2 linked regions of the Homo sapiens genome follow. The protein of the gene in region 1 interacts with the protein of each later gene in a pairwise test. Each region holds a gene or a part of one and is shown on either strand. Other genes may lie near its edges.

Region 1 (7,210 bases):
CTACTCTATTTAGAGGAGGCATGTGAACTCTAGTTCATCATATTCCCCACAACTCATATAGTCACATGCATAGCCTACTTCATGGCAGACCTTATCTGCCTGGCCCCAGAAGGCATTAGAGTTTGCAATTAATAGTCTACTAACTAGAAAGAGGAGGAAAGAAAATAAAAGGCAGTCAGACCAAAGAGAGATGGCAATCTGAATGAGATAAATCCAAGAAAAAGAACCTCTGTAAGTCTTCAGAGGCTTCTGGCCTGGTGCTTACCTGCTGGAGGCTGTTGCTCTCCTGACTGTGCCTGAGTAGACTCAGCAGCAGCCCAGGAAGCCCTGCCTCCCGGCAGAAGGAATACAAGGCAACAGAATCACTGCAGCTGGAGAGAAGACTGCTCAGGACCCGGAATGCAGGCAGGATGTGGGAAGCACCCTCCAAGATGCCTTTCAGGATCTGGGTGACATGAGGGAAAGAGGCAACGATTGATATTTTCAGAGGTAAAAGAAGGAGAACTACACATACCAAGCATCCCCAAGGAGCTGGGAAAGCAGACCACATGCTTGCATTCCTTTCTTTGCAAGTCTAAAACACAGAGAAGGAAAGCAGGGAAATAGGGGAACTGTACCAGGGAAGAAGACAATAGATGGTCAGGTTACCTAACACAGAACACCAGTGACCAACGGATAGGGGCCTCTCCTCAGGATCTCTGTCAGACTAAGTGCCATTCCCATCTGCTCCCTCCCTTCTCCAGCCCTTCACCTTAAAAACAAAAAACACGTGCACCGCACATGCTTCTGAAAATTCAAAACAATGCATATAAAACAATATTATTTAACCACAGAAAGACAAAACAACATTATTCAACTCTAGATCAGGGTTGACAAACTATGGCTCACAGGTCAAATCCAGCCTAACATTTATTTGTATACAGCCTGCATGCTAAGGATAGTATTATATTTTTATTTATTTTTGCCCTTTATTTATTTTTCGAGACAGAGTTTCACTCTTGTCCTCCAGGCTGGAGTGTAATGGTGCAATCTTGGCTCACTGCAACCTCTCTGCCTCCTGGGTTCAAGTGATTCTCCTGCCTCAGCCTCCCAAGTAGCTGGGATTACAGGTGCCCACCACCACACCTAGCTAATTTTTGTATTTTTAGTAGAGATGGGATTTCACCATGTTGGCCAGGCTGGCCTCAAACTCCTGACCTCAAGTGATCCTCCCACCTCAGCCTCCCAAAGTGCTAGGATTACAGGCGTGAGCCACCATGCCTGGCCAGTATTGTATTTTTAAATGGTTATTCTTCAAAAGAAGAACATTTACACCAAGTATTTTATAATATTCCATTAGCTGTTCTAAATGTTGGCATCTGCTCATTTAATATTTACAATAACCCTGTGAAATAAATAGAATTAGCCATTTTATAGATGAAGAAACTGAAGCTTCTGCATAAGTCAAGTAAGTAGTCCAAGATCACGCAGCTAATGAGTAGTGCAGCTGGAATTCCACCAGAGGGAGTCTTATCCCTAAAGGCAGAGCTTTCAGTCTGCCTCCCCACACTGCAAGTTATCCAACACTAGGAGGAAAACGTGTTAGCGCCAAAAGACAAGTGCAAAGTGCCAAGCCAATTCAATGAGGAAAGGAGAGTTCTTTTCCACAAATGGTGCCAGGACAATTATATATCCACATGCAAAAACGATCAACTTAGATCCTTTCCTCACATTATATACAAAAATTAGCTCAAGATGGATCAGAAACCTACATGTAAGAGCTAAAACTATAAAACTTAGGAAAAGAGAAAATCTTTAAGACCTTGCATTTGGAAAAGATTTCTTATACACAACATCAAAAGTATGAACCACAAAGGGAAAAAACAGTAACTGAACTTAAATCAAAATTCAACATTTTTTGCTTCAAAAGACACTCTTATGAGAAAGAATGAAAAGACAAACCACAGACTGGGAGAAAATATTTGCAAATCACCCATCTGATAAAGGTCTTATGTTGACAATATACAAAGAAGTCTTACAACTCAATAACGCAAACAACCAAATTAAAAACTGAGCAGAAGATTTGAGATATTTCACCAAAGAAGATATACAAATGGTGAATAAGCCATGAAAAGATGTTCAACATTCATCATTAGTGGAATGTAAATTAAAATAACAATGAGATACTATCTCACACTTACTAGAATGGCTATAGTAAAAAAGTTAGACAATAACAAGTGTTGACAAGGATGTGAAGAAACAAGGACCCTCATATAATACTGGTGGGAATGTAAAATGGTACAGCCACTTTGGAAAATAGTTCAGCAGTTTCTTAAAATGTTAAATATAAATTTACCATATGACCAGCAATTCTACTCCTACGTAGTTACCCAAGGGAAATAAAAACATTTATCCATACATAGACTTGCTTGTGAATGTTCATAGCAGCATTATTCATAAAAGCTAAAAAGTGGAAACAACCCAATACATCAATATCTAATCAACTAGTGAGTGGATAAACAAAATGTGATATATCCATATAACGGAATACTAACCAGCTATAAAAAGGGGAATAATGATTAACTGTAAATGGGGGCTGGGGGCAGTAGCTCATACCTATAATCCTAGCACTTTGGGAGGCCAAGGTGGGAGGATTACTTGAGCCCACTTGAGCCCAGGAGTTCCAGACCAGCCTGGGCAACATGGTAAAACCCTATCTCTACAAAAAATACAAAAAATTAGCTAAGCATGGTGGTGCACGCCTGTAATCCAAGCTACTTGAGATGCTGAGACATGAGAATCCCTTGAACCAGGGAGGCAGAGGCTGCAGTGACCCAAGATTGTGCTACAACACTCCAGCCTAGATGACAGAGTGAGACCCCATCTCAAAAATTAAAAATAAATAAATAAATAAATTTTAAAAAGGCTGGGCACGGTGGTTCACGCCTGTAATCCCAGCACTTTGGGAGGCTGAGGCGGGCGGATCACAAGGTCAGGAGTTCAAGACCAGCCTGGCTAAGATGGTGAAACACCATCTCTACTAAAAATACAAAAAAATTAACCGGGCGTGGTGGCACGAGCCTGTAATCCCAGTCACTCCAGAGGCTGAGGCAGAGAATTGCTTAAACCTGCGCGGGGCAGAGGTTGCAGTGAGCCGAGATCACACCACTACACTCCAGCCTGGGTGACAGAGTGAGATTCCGTCTCAAAAAAAAAACCGTAAATGGGTATGAGGGATTTTACTGGGGTGATGAAAATGTTCTAAAACTGAACTATGGTTAACAGTTTTTAAATTAGCAAATTTACTAAAAATCATTTATCATTCATCAAAAAAGTGTAAATCTTATACATAAATTATACCTGAATAAAGTGATATAAGCAACACAGTTTGGCGAGTACCCAGGAAGGAAAAGCACTGTGTTTCAGAGGAGCAAAGTAAGGTTTTGTAGGAGGGAACACTAACTTTACACTAACTTTGAATGCTAATTAAGCAAAATGTCATTCCTCTCCCCCGCAAAATAACCTCATTCTTCTCACTAGTGTACCTGTAGTACAAAATATTGTATATTTAATTGTTACATTTATATTTTTAATTTCATCAATAAAAAATTAGTGAAAATGTGTTTTCCCTCATTATGTAAGTACTTAACATAATATCCTCCATTTTTGCCTGGTGGCTCACAATGCCTAAAATATTTATCATCAAAAAAGTTTGATCCCTATTCTAGTAGGCATTTTTCCCTTCAGAAAAAGAAACCTGAGGGCTGCTCTTTCTGTGTTACTAAAGGAGGTTGGTAAACCTCCTCAAACTAAGCAGATAGACTGAAGAACTGGAAAAGGACAAACTTTCTCTTTCTCCTGAAGTCAGTGTATTTCAATGCTCCATCTGTGAAAACAGTCTTGATCCCATCCACAGTGTCTTTCTCCCCATTACCTGCCCTCCAGCTTCATGCAGCTGACTCTGGATGCGCTGGCAGAAGTCAGGATTACACAGCAAGGTGAGAGGAGCCTTCAGTTGAATAGGCACAGGCTCAGTGGTCTCTAGCAGGTGCTGCCACTCATTGTCACTGTCTGGCTCCTGAGGCAGAGGGGAGTGAAAGGGGTCAGGAGTAGTGTGTAAGTCTAAGGTAGTAGATCCCAACCAGTAGAAACCATGGGGAATCATGAAGTAACTGCAAGGAGCCAGTGACCCCTTTAGCACAGATGTATATCTTCAGTCACCTGCTAAAAAAGGTACAGCTGGCAGTCTGTGAGGGGTCTGGAAGAGTCTCTTGGAGAACACCGGCATGTGTGCATAAAGAGATACCTAGAAAGACGTCCGCTGCAGCATGGTTTGTAATAATTTTAAAAAGGAAAAGATCATAAAGTCAGTCACTAAGGGAATAATAAACCAGGGTCCATCCATATTAGAAAATACGATGAGGTTATTAAAAAGATTGTGAATGCCGGGTGCGTGGCTCACACCTGTAATCCCACCACTTTGGGAGGCCGAGGCTGGCAGATCACCTGAGCTCAGGAGTTCAAGACCAGCCTGGCCAATGTGGTGAAACCCCCCTCTCTATGAAAATACAAAAATTAGCTGGGTGTGGTGGCACATGCCTGTAATCCCAGCTACTCAGGAGGCTGACACAGGAGAATTGTTTGAACCCGGGAGACAGAGTTTGCAGTGAGCCGAGATGTCACCACTGCACTCCAGCCTGGGTGACAGAGTGAGACTCTGTCTCAAAAAAAAAAAAAAAAAAAAAAAAGGCCAGGCGCAGTAGCTCACGCCTATAATCCCAGCACTTTGGGAGGCTGAGGCAGGCAGATCACCTGAGGTCGGGAGTTCAAGACCAGCCTGACCAACATGGAGAAACCCCACCCATCTCTACTAAAAATACAAAATTAGCCGGGTGTGGTGGCAGATGCCTGTAATCCCAGCTACTCGGGAGGCAGAGGCAGGATAATCGCTTGAATCCAGGAGGTGGAGGTGGCGGTGAGCTGAGATCGTGCCATTGCACTCCAGCCTGGGCAACAAGAGTGAAACTCTGTCTCAAAAAAAAAAAAAAAAAAAAAAGATCGTGAGGCTGGGCACATTAGCTCATACCTGTAATCCCAGCATTTTGGGAGGTCGAGGTAGGAGGACTGCTTGAGGCCAGGAGCTCAAGACCAGCCTGGGCAATATAGTAAGGCTCTGTCTCTTTAAAAAAAAAAAAAAAAAAGTGGCACATATACACCATGGAATACTATGCAGCCATAAAAAATGATGAGTTCATGTCCTTTGTAGGGACGTGGATGAAATTGGAAATCATCATTCTCAGTAAACTATCACAAGAACAAAAAACCAAACACCACATATTCTCACTCATAGGTGGGAATTGAACAATGAGAACACATGGACACAGGAAGGGGAACATCACACTCTGGGGACTGTTGTGGGGTGGGGGAAGGGGGAGGGATAGCACTGGGAGATATACCTAATGCTAGATGACGAGTTAGTGGGTGCTGCGCACCAGCATGGCACATGTATACATATGTAACTAACCTGCACATTGTGCACATGTACCCTAAAACTTAAAGTATAATAATAATAAATAAATAAATAAAAATAGGCCTGGTGCAGTGGCTCATGCCTGTAATCCCAGCACTTCAAGAGGCCGAGGCGGGCAGATCACAAGGTCAGGAGTTCGAGACCAGCCTGAACAACATGGTGAAACCCTGTCTCTACTAAAAATACAAAAATTAGCTGGGCATGGTGACAGGCACCTGTAACCCCAGCTACTCAGAAGGCTGAGGCAGGATAATCGCTTGAACCTGGGAGGCGGCGGTTGCAGTGAGCCAAGATCGTGCCACTGCACTCCAGCCCAGGCAACAGAGCAAGACTCCATCTTAAAAAAAAAAAAAAAAAATAGCTGGGCATGGTGCCATACACCTGTAGTCTCAGCTACTCAGGAGGCTGAGATGAAAGAATTGCTTACCCCATGAGTTCAAGGCTGCAGTGAGCCATGATTGCACCACTATAGTCCACCCTGTTGTCCAGGTGATAGAATAAGACACTGTCTCAAATAAATAAATAAAAAGATTAAGGTACTGAGGATGTATCACTTATGTAGTATTCCTACCAAAAATATATACAACCTGAATCTATTCATTAGGAAATAATCAATTTGAGGAACATTCTACAAAATAACTGACGTGTACCTCAAAACTATCAGTCATAAAATACAAAGAAAGACAAGAACTGTTCCAGATTAAAGGAGACTAAGGAGGCATAACAACTAAATGCAATGTGTGGGCTGGGCACAGTGGCTCACTGTAATCCCAGCACTTTGTGAGGCTGACGCGGGCAGACCACTTGAGTCCAGGAGTTCAAGACCAACCTGGACAAGATGGCGAAACCTTCTCTCTAAAAAAACACAAAAATTAGCCAGGCATGGTGGCAGGTGCCTGTAGTCCCAGCTACTCAGAAGGCTGAGGCAGGAGGATTGCTTGAGCTCAGGAGTCGGAGGTTACAGTGAGCCGAGATCACATCATTGCACTCCACCCTGGCAACAGAGTAAGACCCTGCTCAATAAATAAATAAATAAATAAATAAAGCAAGGTGTGATACTGGATTGGATCATGGAGCAGAAAAAAAATTTTCATAACGCACATTACTGAAGCAATTAGCAAAATTTGAATAAGGATTACAGATTAGTTTAATTAATCTATTATAACAGTATTATATCAATGTTAAATTTCTGACTTTCATAATTGTACTGTGTTAGTGTAAGTGAAGGATCTTGTTTTAGGAAATATGCGCTAAAGTATTTAGGGGTAAAGGGGCATGTGTACAACTTACCCTAAAATGATTCAGAAAGATGCTATGTCCATAGGGGGAGAGAGAGAGAGAGGATGGTAAAGCAAATGAGACAAAAGTTTTACAACTGATGAATTTGGGGTAAAAGTGTTGTTATAGGCTGGGTGTGGTGGCTCCAGCTTGTAATCCCAGCACTTTGGGAGGCCGAGGCAGGCAGATCACCTAAGGTCAGGAGTTTGAGACCAGCCTAGCCAACATGGTGAAACCCCATCTCTACTCAAAATACAAAATTAGCTGGGCATGATGGCACATGCCTGTAATTCCAGCTACTTGGGAGGCTGAGGCAGGAGAATCGCTTGAACCCAGGAGGCAGAGGTTGCAGTGAGCCAAGATCGTGCCGTTGCACTCCAGCCTGGGCAACAAGAGCAAAACTCCATCTCAAAAAAATAAAAA
Region 2 (7,025 bases), on another chromosome or scaffold:
GGATATGGCTGAGTTCCATTAAAACTTTTATTTATGGGCAGGGTGCAATGACTCACGTCTATAATCCCAGCAATTTGGGAGGCCAAGGCAGGTAGGTCACCTGAAGTCAGGAGTTCAAGACCAGCCTGGCCAACATGGCGAAACCCCATCTCTACTAAAAATACAAAAATTAGGCCAGGTGCAGTGGCTTACGCCTGTAATCCCAGCACTTTGGGGGGCCGAGGAGGGTGGATCACCTGAGGTCAGGAGATCAAGACCATCCTGGCTAACACAGTGAAACCCCATCTCTACTAAAAATACAAAAAATTAGCCAGGCATGGTGGCACGCGCCTGTAGTCCCACCTACTCGGGAGGCTGAGGCAGAGAATTGCTTGGACCCGGGAGGCGGAGGCTGCAGTGAGCCAAGATCGCGCCACTGCACTCCAGCCTGAGGAACAGAACAAGATTCCATCTCAAAAAAAAAAAAAATTAGCCAGGCATGGTGGCGGGCGCCTGTAATCCCAGCTATTCCGGAGGCTGAAGCAAGAGAATGGCTTGAACCCAGGAGGCACAGGTTGCAGTGAGCCGATTGCGCCACTGCACTCCAGCCTGGGTGACAAGAGACTCCATATCAAAAAAAATAATAATAATTAATTAATTAAAAACAAAAAGGCACTGGTTAGTATCTTTCTTTTAATGACGGTTTCCCTAAGTCCTTTTTACATCCCTCTTCGTTCTAAAACCCATTCATTAAAAAGAACCAATCCTGGCCTAGCACAGTGCCTCATGTCTGTAATCCCAACGCTTTCGGAGGTGGAGGCAGGATTGTCTGAAGCCAAGAGTTCAAGACCAGCCTGGGCAACATGGTGAGATCCCGACTCTACACAAATAAAATAGCCTGGCATGGTGGTGCATGCCTGTAGTCCCAGCTATATGGTATGTATTATAACCAAAATAAGATTAAACTGACAGTATGTTAAGATGGGAAGTTACTAAGCCAGAAAAAATATAATCAGAAACCTTAAGTGTTCACAAATTGTCTACATTAGGATATCTCAGGATAAGATGATAAAATAAGTTTTCATACAGTATGTATAACTGATTTCTTGAAAATAAGGTTTTAGGCTACAAGGGAAAAAATTAAGTAAAATCTTGATTTTTTTTTTTTTTAAAGGAGGCTAGGTCTTGAACCCCTGGGCTCAAGCAATCCTCCTGCCTCAGCCTCCCAAAATTCTGGAATTACAGGTGCAAGCCACCATCCAGCCCATCTTGAAATTTTGAATTTGATTTAGGCCAAATTCATTTCCTTAATCTTTAGTCACATCTGACCATCAAGTCACATGTGGACAATTTCAGTCTGAAATTAACAAAACACATTAGTTATAAATCTGCTTAGATAGGGTGGTTTGTTACTTTCAAGCATTTCTCCTCTCTAAGGCTGTTTCCTTAGAGTAAAATAAGAATTGGATCAAATGATTTTCTTTTTTTTTTTTGGACAGGGTCTCACTCAGTGGCCCAGGCTGGTGTGCAGGGGCAAGATCTAGGCTCACTGCAACCTCCACCTCCAGGGTTCAAACGATTCTCGTGCCTCAGCCTCCAGAGTAGCCACCTCAGCCTCTGGCACACCACCACACCCAGTTAATTTTTTGTGTTTTTGGTAGATATGGAGTTTCACTATGTTGCCCAGGCTGGTCTAGAACTCCTGGCCTCAAGTGATCCGCCTGCCTCGGCCTTCCAAAGTGCTAGGATTACAGGTGTGAGCCACCGCGCCTGGCACTAAGTTATCTTTCAATAACTTATTAATAGTTGAAATTCCATGACTTTAAGATTCTTTGACTCAGTCCAAACACGTTCCCCATTACAGACTTCCTAATATTCATTTTTAAAGCTGTAACCTCTTAATTATAAAATAAAACACAAGTACAGAAAACTCCACAGAATACATAGTTTAATGAATTACTAAAGAGGGACACCCTTCTAATCACCACCCAAAGTCAGGAAATAGGACTTTGCCAGCCACACAAGCAGCCCCTCTGTGAGCCTGTCTCAATCACCACCCCTCCTGATCCCCAAAAGTTAACCACCCCCTGACTTTCGTAGTCATCACTTCCTTAGGTTTCTTCATGGTTTTCTCACTCGAGTGTGCTTTCCCAGAAACCACAGTTTAGTCTCTTAACCTATAGTGCTCCTAAGGAAGTCTCTCTTAATTCACAAGTTCACCTAAGAAGCATCTAAGAAGCCAGAAGGCAGAGCAAATCACATACAGGTGCAAATGAGGCATTTAAGAGTCGGGGGCAGGTCCTACATTCAAGGAACGCTGAGAGCGAACAGGTGATAAGAGCGCACAGGTGCCCACTTTCAGCACAATCATGACTCCCGCACCAGAAGCATGAGCATCACCTGGGACTTAATACAAAAGAAAAAGTTATCGGCCCTGCCCCAAATTTACGGAATCATACACTACGGCGGTAGGGCCTGGCCTTCTGTGTTACTACACGCCCTGGGGTGACTGGGATGCGCTCAAGTCTGCGAAATGCCAGCCAAATCAACCCCGAGATGTAACCGATGGCGCGCGCCACACTAAGCACTCCATAGGTGCTCCTCCTCGCCGCACTTCACAGACTCAATTATCACAGACTCAGGGGCGCTACGTAGTCACTCACCCCCCCCCCCCCCCCCCCCGCTCCCCAGGCAACTCGCGGCGGGCGAATCGGCGGCTTTCGCGGCCTCGCTACGTCCGTAGGCATCAGTCCGCGAGACCGGCTGGGAGCCTAGGAAGCGCTGCAGGGCGGTGAAGACGCGGTCCGCTCTGGGAAGTTAAGAGATGGCGTCCATAAAGCACATCTCCCAAGCCGAAACACACAAGCACTCTCTCTCCCCGCTGCACCCAGGTCCTAGAAGAGGCGTCCCGTGTGCCCTTAACTAACGCCCGGATAAAAACGGGCGGCTTTTTTAACACGAGCGCAAAGCAGGGGAGCGCAGGGGGTACGGGGTCCACTGGCAGAAGGAGAGAGGGCGGCCAGGCGCCACCACCCACCCGCCCCGGCAGGCCTGCGCGCTCTTCCGCGACCGCTTAGGCAGACACGAACTCAGACTCGTAGCTACTAAAACCGCCACTGCCACGCACCTGGTAGCTAAGTCAAGAAAAGAGTCCAGTCCACTTGGCTGCTCCCGCGGTTGCGCGCATCTCGGCCTCTGCCTCAGGACAGGTCCACAGGCCCAAGAATGGGGGAGAAAGCAGTGAAGCAAAGCGGAACGCGCGGAAGAAGCCGACCAGCCTTACGGAGGCGACGCCCCTCCAGGTTTGGATTCGTCCATACGGTTTCCACGGCAGCACACAGAACGCCGGAAGAAGCTCAGGAAGCCGACTGGCTGTGCAGTTTCCGTTCCTGTTGGCTGGGGCCCGGAAGTGAGAGACCACGAGGGCCCCTCCCTCCACCCAAAGGGCATCACGCCCTGCCTTTGGACGAGCCCACAGGCCAGAGACTGGGGCGGGAAGTGCTGGAGTAACAGTCATAGTGGTCGGCCCACCATCCCTCTATGTTTGGATTTGCTCATTCCATCTCCATGGCAGCACGCAGAACGCTGGAAAAACGCAAAGCGCTGATTGGTTAAGAGTCTCAGTTCCTATTGGCCAGAGTCCGAAGTGGGAGCCCGTGAGGGACTACTCTTCAATCTTAAGTGGGTGCTGAGGCTAGAGTGTGGAGAACTGAGACCTCGTCATTTCTTCTCTTCCCGTTCCCACTGTCCTTCTGTTTCCTTCCATTCTTTTCTTTCTGGCTTCTTCTGGGAGCTCAGGTAGACATGGTGGCATAGTCTGGATAACCAACGCCTCAGAAGCAGGGGCCCCGGGGTCCTCACCATTTAGAAAAGAGAAGGCTGTGAATTACCTTCCTTTTTGGAGATGGAGGAAACAGATGAGACACTCTGATCTCAAGTTGATTGTGTAAACTAAAAATAAAAGTTCCAAGCCCCCCTACCAACTGAGTGGATCCCTCCTCTGGGCCAAAGGCACGCCAAAGTTAACCTGAAGAACTAGCTCAGGCAATGATGGGAAGATGGGGTGGGACAGGCCTCATTATACCCTCCTCCCGTTGGAATACAGGCACAGCTGACCAGCGTTAACATTAAACAGAGACCTTAAGACTGACAAAACAGACTTTTTTGCAGCAATAAGATACCAACATGGCAGCAGGCCCCAAAAGACATTGAAGTATTTTATCCTGATATATATATACACACACATAGACAAACACACACACACATATACTCTTATGTATACATATATACTCATATACGTATATATATATATATTTTTTTTGAGACAGTCTCGCTGCATCACACAGACTAGAGGGCAGTGGCGCAATCTCGGCTCACTGCAACCTCCACCTCCTGGGTTCAAGTGATTCTCCTGCCTCAGCCTCCCAAGTAGCTGGGATTACAGGCGTGTGCCACCACACCAGCTAATTTTTGTATTTTTAGTAGAGACAGGGTTTCACTGTGTTGGCCAAGCTCATCTTGAACTCCTGACCTCAGGTGATCCACCCGCCTTGGCCTCCCAAAGTGCTGGGATTACAGGTGTGAGCCACCGTGCCTGGCCAAATATATTTATTTGACATATTTTGAAATGGCCTTGCAGAGCTATCTCTTCTGGGGGGAATCTACATTCTGTAAAGAATCCCCTTGTCTTTCCAGGTCTTTTCCCTGATGCTGGAGAGAATTAACTGAGAACCTGACACCTGTTTTAAGTCTGATAAGAAACATTTACAATCTATTCTCTCTGAAACCTGCTACATAGAGGCTTCATCTGCAGAACAAGAACCCTGGTCTCTGCAACCTCTTATCTCAACCCAGACACTGCCTTCTATTGGCTCCAGGTCTTTATATAATAACTCTTTTAACCAATTGCCAATTGTAGGGTATATGGATGTGCTTTGGTCAAGGAATAGGCCAAGGTGGACATCCGGGCCAGAGTGGCTCAGCGAGTTTAGGACACAGGCGCATATTCCACTTGTTATGTAACCCGTTTATGTAAGTTCATACTTGGATCTGAGCCACTATTGTCTGTAGAAGGTATAACTGCCCTGCTGACACTGTGCCCAGGTCTGAGTTCAGCACGACACGACCCGGTTCGTGCACTGGTGCCCAGAGTAATGCTACTAACCCCTCTAAGGGAGAGCGGTTGCCCTTAAGGTGGGCAGAGGGGAGCCGAGCCAGGAACCAGCTTGTGCCCAGAGGGAGAGTTAAGCTGCTGACCCTGACAGAGCTGGCTTTGCAGGCCAGGGTGTGCAGCTGCAGGCATGGGGGCAACAGGAGCCACAGAGCCAGAACAGACAGCCGAGATAAAGGTGGACAGTGTGAGAGAGCTAGTGTGATTAAGCTGCTGATGACACAGCCGCTGAATAAAACTACATTTCACTTGCCTACACGCCCCCAACCCTCCTTGTGTTCTTTCAGTTATTCGCCCATCCACCCACTCCCCTTGGACCTCAGCTGGGGGCTGGAACCTGACAATTGGCGTAGTCGTGGCATAACACCAATCACCTATTAAATCCACCCTATGATGTAGAAGCTCTTTCCAGCTTCGAGTTGTCCCACCTTTCCTGACCCAACCAATACCTTATGTCATGTATTGATTGATGTCTTATTTCTCCGTAAAACATGTAAAACCGAGCTGCAGCTCAGTCACCTTAGCTGTCAGGCCTCTGAGCCTAAGCTAAGCCATCATATCCCCTGTGACCTGCACGTATACATCCAGATGGCATGAAGCAACTGAAGATCCACAAAAGATGTGAAAATAGCCTTAACTGATGACATTCCACCATTGTGATTTGTTTCTGCCCCACCCTACCTGATCAATTTACTTTGTAATCTCCCCCACCCTTAAGAAGGTTCTTTGTAATTCTCCCCACCCTTGAAAATGTACTTTGTGAGATCCATCCTCTGCCCGCAAAACATTGTTCCTGACTCCACCGCCTATCCCAAAACCTATAAGAACTGACGATAATCCCACCACCCGCTGCTGACTCTCTTTTCAAACTCAGCCCACCTGCACCCAGGTGAAATAAACAGCCTTGTTGCTCACACGAAGCCTGTTTGGTGGTCTCTTCACACGGACACGTGAGACATTAGCCATATGTTCCTAGGGCCTCTTGAGACTGTGCCTCGAGCCATGGTCACTCAGATTTGGCTCAGAATAAATCTCTTTAAATATTTTACAGAGTTTAACTCTTTTTGTCAACCATCACTTACGGCTTTCAAAGCTCCACACTTGCAAGTTTCAACCACCAGATACACTGGAGCCTGTACTCCAGCCCGAGCAACAGCGCAAAATCCTGTCTGTAAAAAGGAAATTTAAAAAGAAATTTTATTTTTTGCTAACTTTACATGCATTGTTATTATTTAATGCCTCTTTGTATGAAGTAAAAAATAAATTTCTTTTCTGCAGCATTTAATGCAATGCTTTGCCTAAAGAAGGAAGTTTCTATGTGCTTGAATGAGAGATTCTTTTTTTTTGGAGACAGAGTTTAGCTCTTGTTGCGCAGGCTAGAGTGCTAACCTAGCTACACTCTAGAGACAGGGGTTTCTCCATGTTAGTCAGGCTGGTCTTGAACTCCCGACCTCAGGTGATCTGCCCGCCTCGGCCTCCCAAAGTGCTGAGATTACAGGTGTGAGCCACCGCGCCCGGCTGACAGATTCTTTATGATCATCCAGAGGTGAGAAAATGAACCAGCTCCCCTCTTCAGCATCCTTCAATGCAAAAGTGGTTTGCAAACTTTACCATCAGAATCACCTGGAGCTCTTGTTAAAACATAGATTTCTGGCTCCACCTACAAAACTTCTGATTCTGTATCTCAATGGGGCCTAAAATTTTGCATTTCTATCAACTTACCAGGTGATGTCAATGTTGCAAGTTGAGCACCACACTTTTCAAACAACCATCTAGAAAAACTGTTCTGATCTCAGGTAAATCACATCTCCTTTTACTTCTGACCCTTCCTGCCTTCTCAAGAGTCTCAGCATCCATTATTGTCAGTTCTGTGTAT

The links. The genes of interacting proteins can lie anywhere in the genome.
Region 2: the proteins of STK36 (region 1) and ULK4 interact in a two-hybrid assay, tested with the Homo sapiens proteins (one study listed by IntAct).

Annotation. Positions count from the first base shown.
Region 1 is NC_000002.12:218,681,932-218,689,141, reverse strand, and holds part of STK36 (serine/threonine-protein kinase 36), read right to left. Parts: intron 4,058-7,210; coding exon 3,914-4,057; intron 446-3,913; coding exon 266-445; intron 1-265.
Region 2 is NC_000003.12:41,958,910-41,965,934, forward strand, and holds the start of ULK4 (serine/threonine-protein kinase ULK4), read right to left. Parts: upstream 3,195-7,025; 5' UTR 3,107-3,194; intron 1-3,106. UniProt on the Homo sapiens protein: May be involved in the remodeling of cytoskeletal components, such as alpha-tubulin, and in this way regulates neurite branching and elongation, as well as cell motility.